Linked DNA regions of Homo sapiens. The protein of the gene in region 1 interacts with the protein of each later gene in a pairwise test. Each region holds a gene or a part of one and is shown on either strand. Other genes may lie near its edges.

Evidence for each region. Proteins that work in one complex are often made in the same cells at the same time.
Region 2: the proteins of ABCC5 (region 1) and RBP5 interact in a two-hybrid assay, tested with the Homo sapiens proteins (one large-scale study listed by BioGRID and IntAct).

The regions. Positions count from the first base shown.
Region 1 is NC_000003.12:183,920,540-183,924,796, reverse strand, and holds part of ABCC5 (ATP-binding cassette sub-family C member 5), read left to right. Parts: intron 1-3,395; coding exon 3,396-3,497; 3' UTR 3,498-4,257. UniProt on the Homo sapiens protein: ATP-dependent transporter of the ATP-binding cassette (ABC) family that actively extrudes physiological compounds, and xenobiotics from cells.
Region 2 is NC_000012.12:7,121,803-7,126,538, forward strand, and holds the end of RBP5 (retinol-binding protein 5), read right to left. Parts: intron 2,929-4,736; coding exon 2,827-2,928; intron 2,373-2,826; coding exon 2,319-2,372; 3' UTR 1,884-2,318; downstream 1-1,883.

The DNA of each region.
Region 1 (4,257 bases):
CTGTACCTCTCTTGTAGCTCTTCTGTCTCAGTTGATAGGAATTGTGCAATGCCCTGTCTCCCTAGAGAACTCCCTGAACGCTCTCTGAGGGCAGAGTCACCGCTCATTCATCTTTAGGGCCCCAGCAGTGCTTAGTACTACAGTTCTTTATACAGGTGATGTTAAGTACATTTATGTTAGACAAATACCTCTTTTGCATGCCCCTAGGATACAAGTAAATTAATAATTTGGAGGAAATAGCAAGCCATTTATAATGGGTAACATGTCTTCTATTGTAGAAGCTCCCACAGTGACAGCTACTATAATAGCTACTTCTACTGAATGTTTACTGTGTGTCAGGCACTGTGCTTAGTGCTTTACATATAATCTCTCAACATACCATCAGTCATCACAACAACCTAGAGAAAGACATAGCCTGGATTCTGCTTTACACATGAGGAGACAAAGTCTCAGGGAAAGTCCATAGGAAGTGGAGTAGGCCGGGCACGGTGGCTCATGCCTGTAATCCCAGCAGTTTGGGAGGCCGAGGCGGGCAGATTGCCTGAGCTCAGGCGTTCAAGAGCAGCCTGGGCAACATGACGAAACGCCGTCTCTACCAAAAATACAAAAAATTAGCCAGGAGTGGTGGCACACACCTGTAATCCCAGCTACTAAGGAATTTGAGGTGGAAGGATCATTTAACCCTGGGAGGCAGCGGAGGTTGCAGTGAGCTGAGATAGCGCCACTGCACTCCAGCCTGGGTGACAGAGTGAGACCTCATGTCAAAAAAAAAAAAAAAAAAAAAAAGCAAACAGTAAAAATTGGTGGGATTTAAAAAAAAAGGAAGCGGAGGAGATGGGACAGGACTCAGGCCAGCAACCGCACTGCCAGCACACTGTCTAAATTGTGGAGAAATATTGAGAAAAGGTTAAATAGCGCAGGTTCAGCCTGGGCTTCAAAGCTGAATTGAGAGAACTTGGGGGCTAAGGATTTTTCTCCTCATCTTGAAATTATTTTCACACTAGTGTTTTTTGTGACTATCTTTGTTTGCCTTAAACTAAGTGTTGACTGAGATTCTGTCATACATAAGATACGTTGAGCTACTACTTTGTAAGTAGGTGTTAAAATAGAGCCTAGTAAGGTATAATAGATGGGACCAAGAACATCTTCTGGGAAATTCTTTTTTTCTTTTTTTGAGCCAGAGTCTCGCTCTGTCGCCCAGGCTGGAGTACAGTGGTGCAATCTTGGCTCACTGCAACCTTCGCCTCCGGGGTTCAAGCGATTCTCCTGCCTCAGTCTCCTGAGCAGCTGGGAGTACAGGCATGTGCCACCATGCCTGGCTAATTTTTGTATTTTTAGTAGACACAGGGTTTCACCATGTTGGCCAGGCTGGTCTCGAACTTCTGACCTCAGATAATCCGCCCACCTCAGCCTCCCAAAGTGCTGGGATTACAGGCACAAGCTACTGTGCCCAGCTGGAAATTTTTTCTTAAGAACACAAATTGAGACCCCTTTCTTTCGATGGGTGGCTTGATGTTTTGGAGTGGGGAGCCCATTCACTCTTTATGAGGGACTCTATCCTTCTCTTCCCTTAATTTTTTTCTTGCTAATTAAAATTTCCTTGTAATTTCAGGAAAGCCTAAAAAAAAAAAACCACACACACACCAGAAAAGCATAAAGGCAAAAACAGGATGATAAGCCATTTACCCCCAGAGACGAGCATTGTAATACACTGACTTACCCCAGCTGTGTTTTTCTTGCATCTGCACACACAGACTCCAACAGATGGGATGCTCTCTGCCGCAGACACAAAATACCAGACTAAAAGGGGTTTGGAGGATGGGATTTTGTTATCCCACATGGGTTGGTTTTTGTGCAGCTCAGCAGTGTGGGGCTCTGTATCACTCTCAGCCAGTACTCACCTTCCCCTGCTGGTACAGGATGCCTGCTCAAGCACCCAACCAAAGGAAGGACACGTGTCCAAAGGAAGGACACGCTTATGTTCTCCTTGTGGCCTGTCCACTGAGCAGGACACCCTCTCCTAAAGCACCAAGGAGACTTCCTCTTACATCTCCTTAAACAAGGTTATGTTCCATGCCTTTGCCCTGTGGCGGGGGCGGCTGAGAAAGTTGAGTACATGCATTTCAGCCTCTGCCACAGGAGGTGGGTTCTGCCAGCGTATCATTCAGGGTTCTGCTGCCACATGATTTTCCACGGCTACATAGAAGTCCATCATAGGAATGGCCACCTGACTAAGTCACTCCCTGACTTCCTTTTTCTCCCCTGACAACTAGACATTCTGAGCTCTTCCATTTCCCTCTATAAGGTTAGATCAGCTTGCATAACAAAATGGCATTTGTCTGGTGTGCCCTTGACTTGAGCTGCAACTTCTCTCCCCTGCAGTTTATTTATTTTATTTTGTTTATTTATTTATTTATTTTTTTGAGACGGAGTTTCGCTCTTGTTGCCCAGGCTGGGAGTGCAATAGCACGATCTCTGCTCACCACAACCTCCGCCTCCCGGGTTCCAGCGATTCTCCTGCCTCAGACTCCCCAGTAGCTGGGATTACAGGCATGCACCACCACACCCAGCTAATTTTTGTATTTTCACTAGAGACAGGGTTTCACCATGTTGGTCAGGCTGGTCTCGAACTCCTGACCTCAGGTGATCCGCCTGCCTCGACCTCCCAAAGTGCTGGGATTACAGGCATCAACCACCGCACCCAGCCTGTTGTTTTTTATTTATTTATTTATTTATTTATTTATTTATTTATTTATTTATTATTTTGAGGCAGAGTCTCGTTGTGTCGCCCAGCCTGGCATGCAGTGGTACAATCTCAGTTCACTGCAACCTCCACCTCCTGGGTTCAAGCGATTCTCCTGCCTCAGCCTCCCAAGTCACTGGGATTGTAGGCACCCGCCAACCATGCCCAGCTAATTTTTGTATATTTAGTAGAGACAGGGTTTCACCATGTTGGCCAGGCTGGTCTTGAACTCCTCACCTCAGGCAGTCTGCCCACCTCAGCCTCCCAAAGTGTTGAGATTACAGGCGTGAGCCACCAGCCTCCTGCAGTTTATAGACCTGGTTGGTTGGTTCCTTCACTCCCAAGGCTGAAGGAATTTGGATTTATGTGAAGGAGGTCTGGAAGTCGTTTTCTTTTTTTTTTTTTGCTATGATACTACTTTATTAGGCAAAACCACATACTACAAAAATGCTGGAAGTCATTTTCTCTGTCCTTTCCCTTACTCCCTGGATAGTTGAAAATAAAAAAATAAGGGGGGAGGTGCACGCAGGGCTAGTTGAATTGTCCCCAGATTCTACCCTCAGAGGGCACTGGCACTTACTGAGCCGTGGATCCTCTGAATCACCCTGCATGACCCAGAGCTGTGTCCTGACGGCGTCTCCTTCTTTTGCAGGTGGTGGAGTTTGACACCCCATCGGTCCTTCTGTCCAACGACAGTTCCCGATTCTATGCCATGTTTGCTGCTGCAGAGAACAAGGTCGCTGTCAAGGGCTGACTCCTCCCTGTTGACGAAGTCTCTTTTCTTTAGAGCATTGCCATTCCCTGCCTGGGGCGGGCCCCTCATCGCGTCCTCCTACCGAAACCTTGCCTTTCTCGATTTTATCTTTCGCACAGCAGTTCCGGATTGGCTTGTGTGTTTCACTTTTAGGGAGAGTCATATTTTGATTATTGTATTTATTCCATATTCATGTAAACAAAATTTAGTTTTTGTTCTTAATTGCACTCTAAAAGGTTCAGGGAACCGTTATTATAATTGTATCAGAGGCCTATAATGAAGCTTTATACGTGTAGCTATATCTATATATAATTCTGTACATAGCCTATATTTACAGTGAAAATGTAAGCTGTTTATTTTATATTAAAATAAGCACTGTGCTAATAACAGTGCATATTCCTTTCTATCATTTTTGTACAGTTTGCTGTACTAGAGATCTGGTTTTGCTATTAGACTGTAGGAAGAGTAGCATTTCATTCTTCTCTAGCTGGTGGTTTCACGGTGCCAGGTTTTCTGGGTGTCCAAAGGAAGACGTGTGGCAATAGTGGGCCCTCCGACAGCCCCCTCTGCCGCCTCCCCACGGCCGCTCCAGGGGTGGCTGGAGACGGGTGGGCGGCTGGAGACCATGCAGAGCGCCGTGAGTTCTCAGGGCTCCTGCCTTCTGTCCTGGTGTCACTTACTGTTTCTGTCAGGAGAGCAGCGGGGCGAAGCCCAGGCCCCTTTTCACTCCCTCCATCAAGAATGGGGATCACAGAGACAT
Region 2 (4,736 bases), on another chromosome or scaffold:
ACAGTTATTCCATCCATATGGAAATAAACATTTTGGATTCCTGATCACATCCCTGGAGTTTAAGACTCTGGCCAACCAAGTCAACTCCACAACTTTGTGTGTCCCTGGGAGGGTCTGGTGTGGGACCCACCTGTCTGTGGCCCTCGTCCCCTCCCCTGCCCTTTCTCCACTCACATCTTGGTCCCTCTGGTGATTATCTCTTCCCTCTGAGGACAGATGGAACCTGATTTGAATGAGGGGTAATGGTCTTGTGAGGACCAGGACATGGATTGGGTGTGTGTTTATATGTGTGTGTGTGTATGTGTGTGTGTGTGTGGTGGGAATGGAATATCAGAGAAGGTGGTGGAGGAGGGAGGATTGAATTTGGAGAATCCCTGGCTTCTAGTGTCCGCAGGGGAAACAGCAGCTCCAGCTTCCCACAGCGGTCCCCTCCCCTCTGCAGGTCGAGCTCCCACCCTCTTGGAAATGCCTCTGAAGCTGCATAGTCCTCCCCTGATGCTTGTGCTCCCTTAGGGGATCTCCAGGCCTTTGGGTGTGGTCTGGCCCCTGGAGAAGTGTGGTCGAGTGGAGGATGGGGTCCTGCAGTGGCCATGTTCTGGACGCCCACATCACGGGGAGTTTTGAGGGATTGAGCCCACTTTAGCTTGGGTCTTAAAACCACCATGGTAAGAAGTGTCAACCTTTGGGGGAAAAATAAAAATATATAGAAATATTTAGAAAAACCCACCATGGGGGCCTACAAGTTCCTGAGTCAAGGCCTCTGCCGAGACTCCACTGACCAGCATGGTCACTGAAGGGCATGGAGGACCGTCCTGTGGGAAGAGGCTTGGACATGCACTGTGAACTCAAGAGCAAGGACACTGTGTTGATCTGGAGATGTGGGCAATGGGCGAGTACACACGGAGCATCCTCCTGTGCCTTGGAATGGGACAAGGTGGATTCCAGCAGCCCTCAGAGCTTCTGCTGGGTGGCTTTGCAAAGAAGGGGCTTTCCACTCTACTGTGGACATCTGCAGAGATTGGGCAGGGAATAAGATTTTCCATTCAACCCTGAGTTCCTTTTTTTTTTCTATTCCAAATTCATTCCAGAGCATGTGGTAGGATCAGTATCACAAGCCCCTAGTTCTTGGCCAGAGCCCTAGTGACTGTCTTGTGTGCATGGGGGGGCCAGCCGTTGCAGGAAGATGGGTCAAGAGTCTTCATCTGATGAGGGCCAGGGACTTTCCAACTCCCTCAACCCTTCCCCCAGGCTCTTTTCCCACCCTCACATTGAGCCCTCTTCACTCTGATAGTTGGGCCCCCTAGGACTTTTATTCTGAAAGAGCCAAGGCCCCTGGAGGTGGAGAGGAGGCCAGAGGCTGGAGCTGGCCTTGACCCTGAGCCAGCTCCACCCTTCTGGGCTGTTTTCCAAGGCAGCAACTCTGGGACCCTTGCTGTCCTCAGCTCTCCTCTTTATCTCTGGTCTCCAGCCTTGCTGGCCTTTGAGCAGAGGGTCCCTATAGCCAGGACTGCTGGGCTTCTCCCTCCTATGCCTTCACACCCCTGTATTACTGTCTTTTATTCCTTGACCTCACATCCTCCGTCTACTTCCTTTTTCAGCTTTTTCTGGCTTTCTTGCTGCTTGCCCTTCCCAAAGCAGACACGGAGGACAGGTCACCATTTAGAAGCTCCCCGCCTCCCCAAGCACTGGACAAAGGTCTTACCCCATTCCATCCCTCATTCCCAACACATAGGATGGAAGTATCAAATGGCCAGATGCCTTCAGATGTCAGAACCGTGGAGTCCGTTGAACCCTGTGTGTGGGGGGCTGTGTCTTGGGCCTGGTTTTGTTGAGCACATGAGACTTTCTCAAGGATAAGGACAAAGAAATGGACAAAAAGACTCTGCCAGTAGCCCCTGTTTAAACTCTTGAACCCCAGTCACAGTTTTCCAGAAGTCCATCAGGATAGAATTTTCACTAATCGCCAAATGCCCAAAGCTTAGTTCTTTCTTAGAAGGAAAAGAAGAGGTCAAATGGACAGGAGAGAGCGGAGATTGGTTGTTCTCAGGGGCTCCTTCCCTTTGCCTGCTTCTTTCATTTGGGACGCCAGACCTTGACCTGGAAGTGAGGTCACTATTGGGCAGTGGAGTGTGAGAAAGGACTTTGGCCTGGGGGCTGCAAGTTACAGATTAACACGGGGAGGGGTGAGGAGGGACCCAGAGGGAGGAAAGGTGGCCAGAGGAAGGGACAGCTGACCTGGCACAATCTGGGCTTGAAGGGGGCACAACAAGAGCGTCTGTGAGCTGGTGCTGTCTGGAGGGATCTTGGCTCCTCTCCGGCTATCTGACCTTCCTGAAGACCTGCTCGCACACTGCATCCCTTGCAGTCAGTTCCTGGGGAGAGAGGGGAAGTGAGGGGGAGAGAGAAAGAGGGCGTTTGCCAGCCAGAGCCCCTTTCTCAAGGTCCTTGACCTCCATTTACTCCTTCCGGATACAGCAGCTTGAGTGTTTGATGTATGGGCAATTGTATCATTATTCCACATCCTCAACTTTCCACCCCTCAGGAAGGAAGGTGGCTGGGTCAGGGGATGTGAGTGGCTGAAGCCTCCATCTCGCCAGTGATGATTTATGGGCATTCATCCGACTCGTAGCCAGGGCCCACCTTGGCCACTCTGTTTCTTCCTCTCCCCACTCCTCCCAGTGCTTTTGCTTTCCCTCCCTGGTCAATTCCTTGGATAGGGATTGGGGCTGGGCTGGGGGAAGAGTGGTGGACCTATCTGGTTTGGACAAGGGGATGCCTTATAGCTGGAGGCCCTTCTCCCAGACACCCAGCCCCCACCCCATTTACCAGATACAGCATCTCTCCCTCCAGCCAGTGTCTCCAGCCCCGGTTGGGGACCTCCCCTTTCTGCACACACACCAGGTGCTCCTCCTCCCAGGTTACTATGGTCTATAGGGGAAAGAGGGAGTAAAGAAAGATTAGGAGGCAGGACACTCAAAATGCTTCCCATCTCACTCTGAATGGGCTCCCCCTTTTACTCCACAGCAGATACTGTCTGCTGCAGCCCCTCCACTGAGCGAGGGAGCTGCTCTGATTCAGCAGGACTCCCTTTCCACCCTACTCTTTGTTTTTTGTGTTTTTTTGAGACAAGTTCTTGCTCTGTCACCCAGGCTGGAGTGCAGTGGCAGGATCTCGGCTCACTGCAACCTCTGCCTCCTGGGTTCAAGTGAATCTCATGCCTCAGCTACCAGAGTAGCTGGGATTACAGGCGTGCACCAACATACCGGGTTAATTTTTGTATTTTTAGTAGAGACAGGGTTTCTCCATGTTGGCCAGGCTGGACTTAAACTCCTGAGCTCAAGTGATCCGCCCGCCACCGCTTCCTAAAGTGCTGTGACTATAGGCATGAACCATCACACCCAGCTTTCCACTCCTAAAGGTCACCGAGGGGGGCCCAAAGTTGTCTACAGTGACCTTTAGGGGAGAGCAGGGGTGGTAGCAGGATAAGTAGAGGTGAAATTGGGGAGGGCATTTATGAAGAATGGAGACTTTTTCCTCTGGATACTTCTGGCTGACCTAGAGGGACTTTTGAGAAAAAAGAGAGATTGGTTGGGAATCCTACCAGGTAATCTCATTTCTCCTCTTTCTCGGTTTCAAGAACAGCTGAAGTATCCTTAGAAATAAAGGGTCAGCCCCTCTGGGCCTGAGCATTCCAATCAACCTTTATTGAGTTCTCCTTTAGGATAGGCCCCAAACAAGGAGCTCAGAGTCTTGAAGAGATAGAGGATCAGTAAATAGGTAACTGTGACACCAGGCAAGAGTGAGGGATGGCAGTGGGGCGGGCAGAGTGAAATCTTTAAGGAAGTTGGGAGTTAATTAGATTGGAGAGAATGGGAAATTTCTAGCAAGGAAAGAAACAGCTAGAAATAGCGGTAAAAGAGAAAGGCAATTAGTTCTGAAGGGCTCTAACCTAGAGTATATGTGGTGGAGGCAATTGAAGAGTTGATTCACAGAGACCCTTGTATGCTGAGTTAAGTGTAACAGATGATGTAATGTAATAGATCATCACTGAAAGGGTGTAAGTCAGAGAGTGACATGATCACATTTATGTTTTAAGTAGACCCTGTGGCTACAGCATGCAGATTAGAGGAGGGTTAAGCGTGAGAACCAGCTGGGTGCAGTGGCTTAGGCCCGTAATCTCAGCATTTGGGAGGCTGAGGCGGGAGAATCACTTGAAGTCAAGAGTTTGAGACCAGCCTGGGCAACACAGTGAGACCCCACCTCTACCAAAAAAAAAAAAACACAAAAACACAAAAAAGCAATTTCAGGCACCAGGAAATGAAGGCCTGAATTAGGGTGGTGATAGAGAAAGGTTAGGAGGGAACACAGGAGAGCCATTTAGAAGAGTGATGCTCAACAGAAATAAAATGGGTCAGGAGCCATATTAGAAAAGTAAAGAGAAATAGGGGAAATTAATTTAAATAATATATTTTAGTTAACCAAAAATATTCAAAATATTATTATTTCGGCATGCAGCCAATATAAACATTTCCGAAATGCTTCTTTTTATTTGGCATTGTCTGAAAGTCCACTTACAGCATCTAGATTTGGACTAGTTATATTTCAAGTATTCAACGGCCATCTGAAGTTAGCAGCTGCTATACTGGGTAATGCAGAAAAGCTACAAAGATTTCTTGGCCGATTAGATGTGGTGGTGGTGGTGGTGGTGGTGTGTGTGTGTGTGTGTGTGTGTGTGT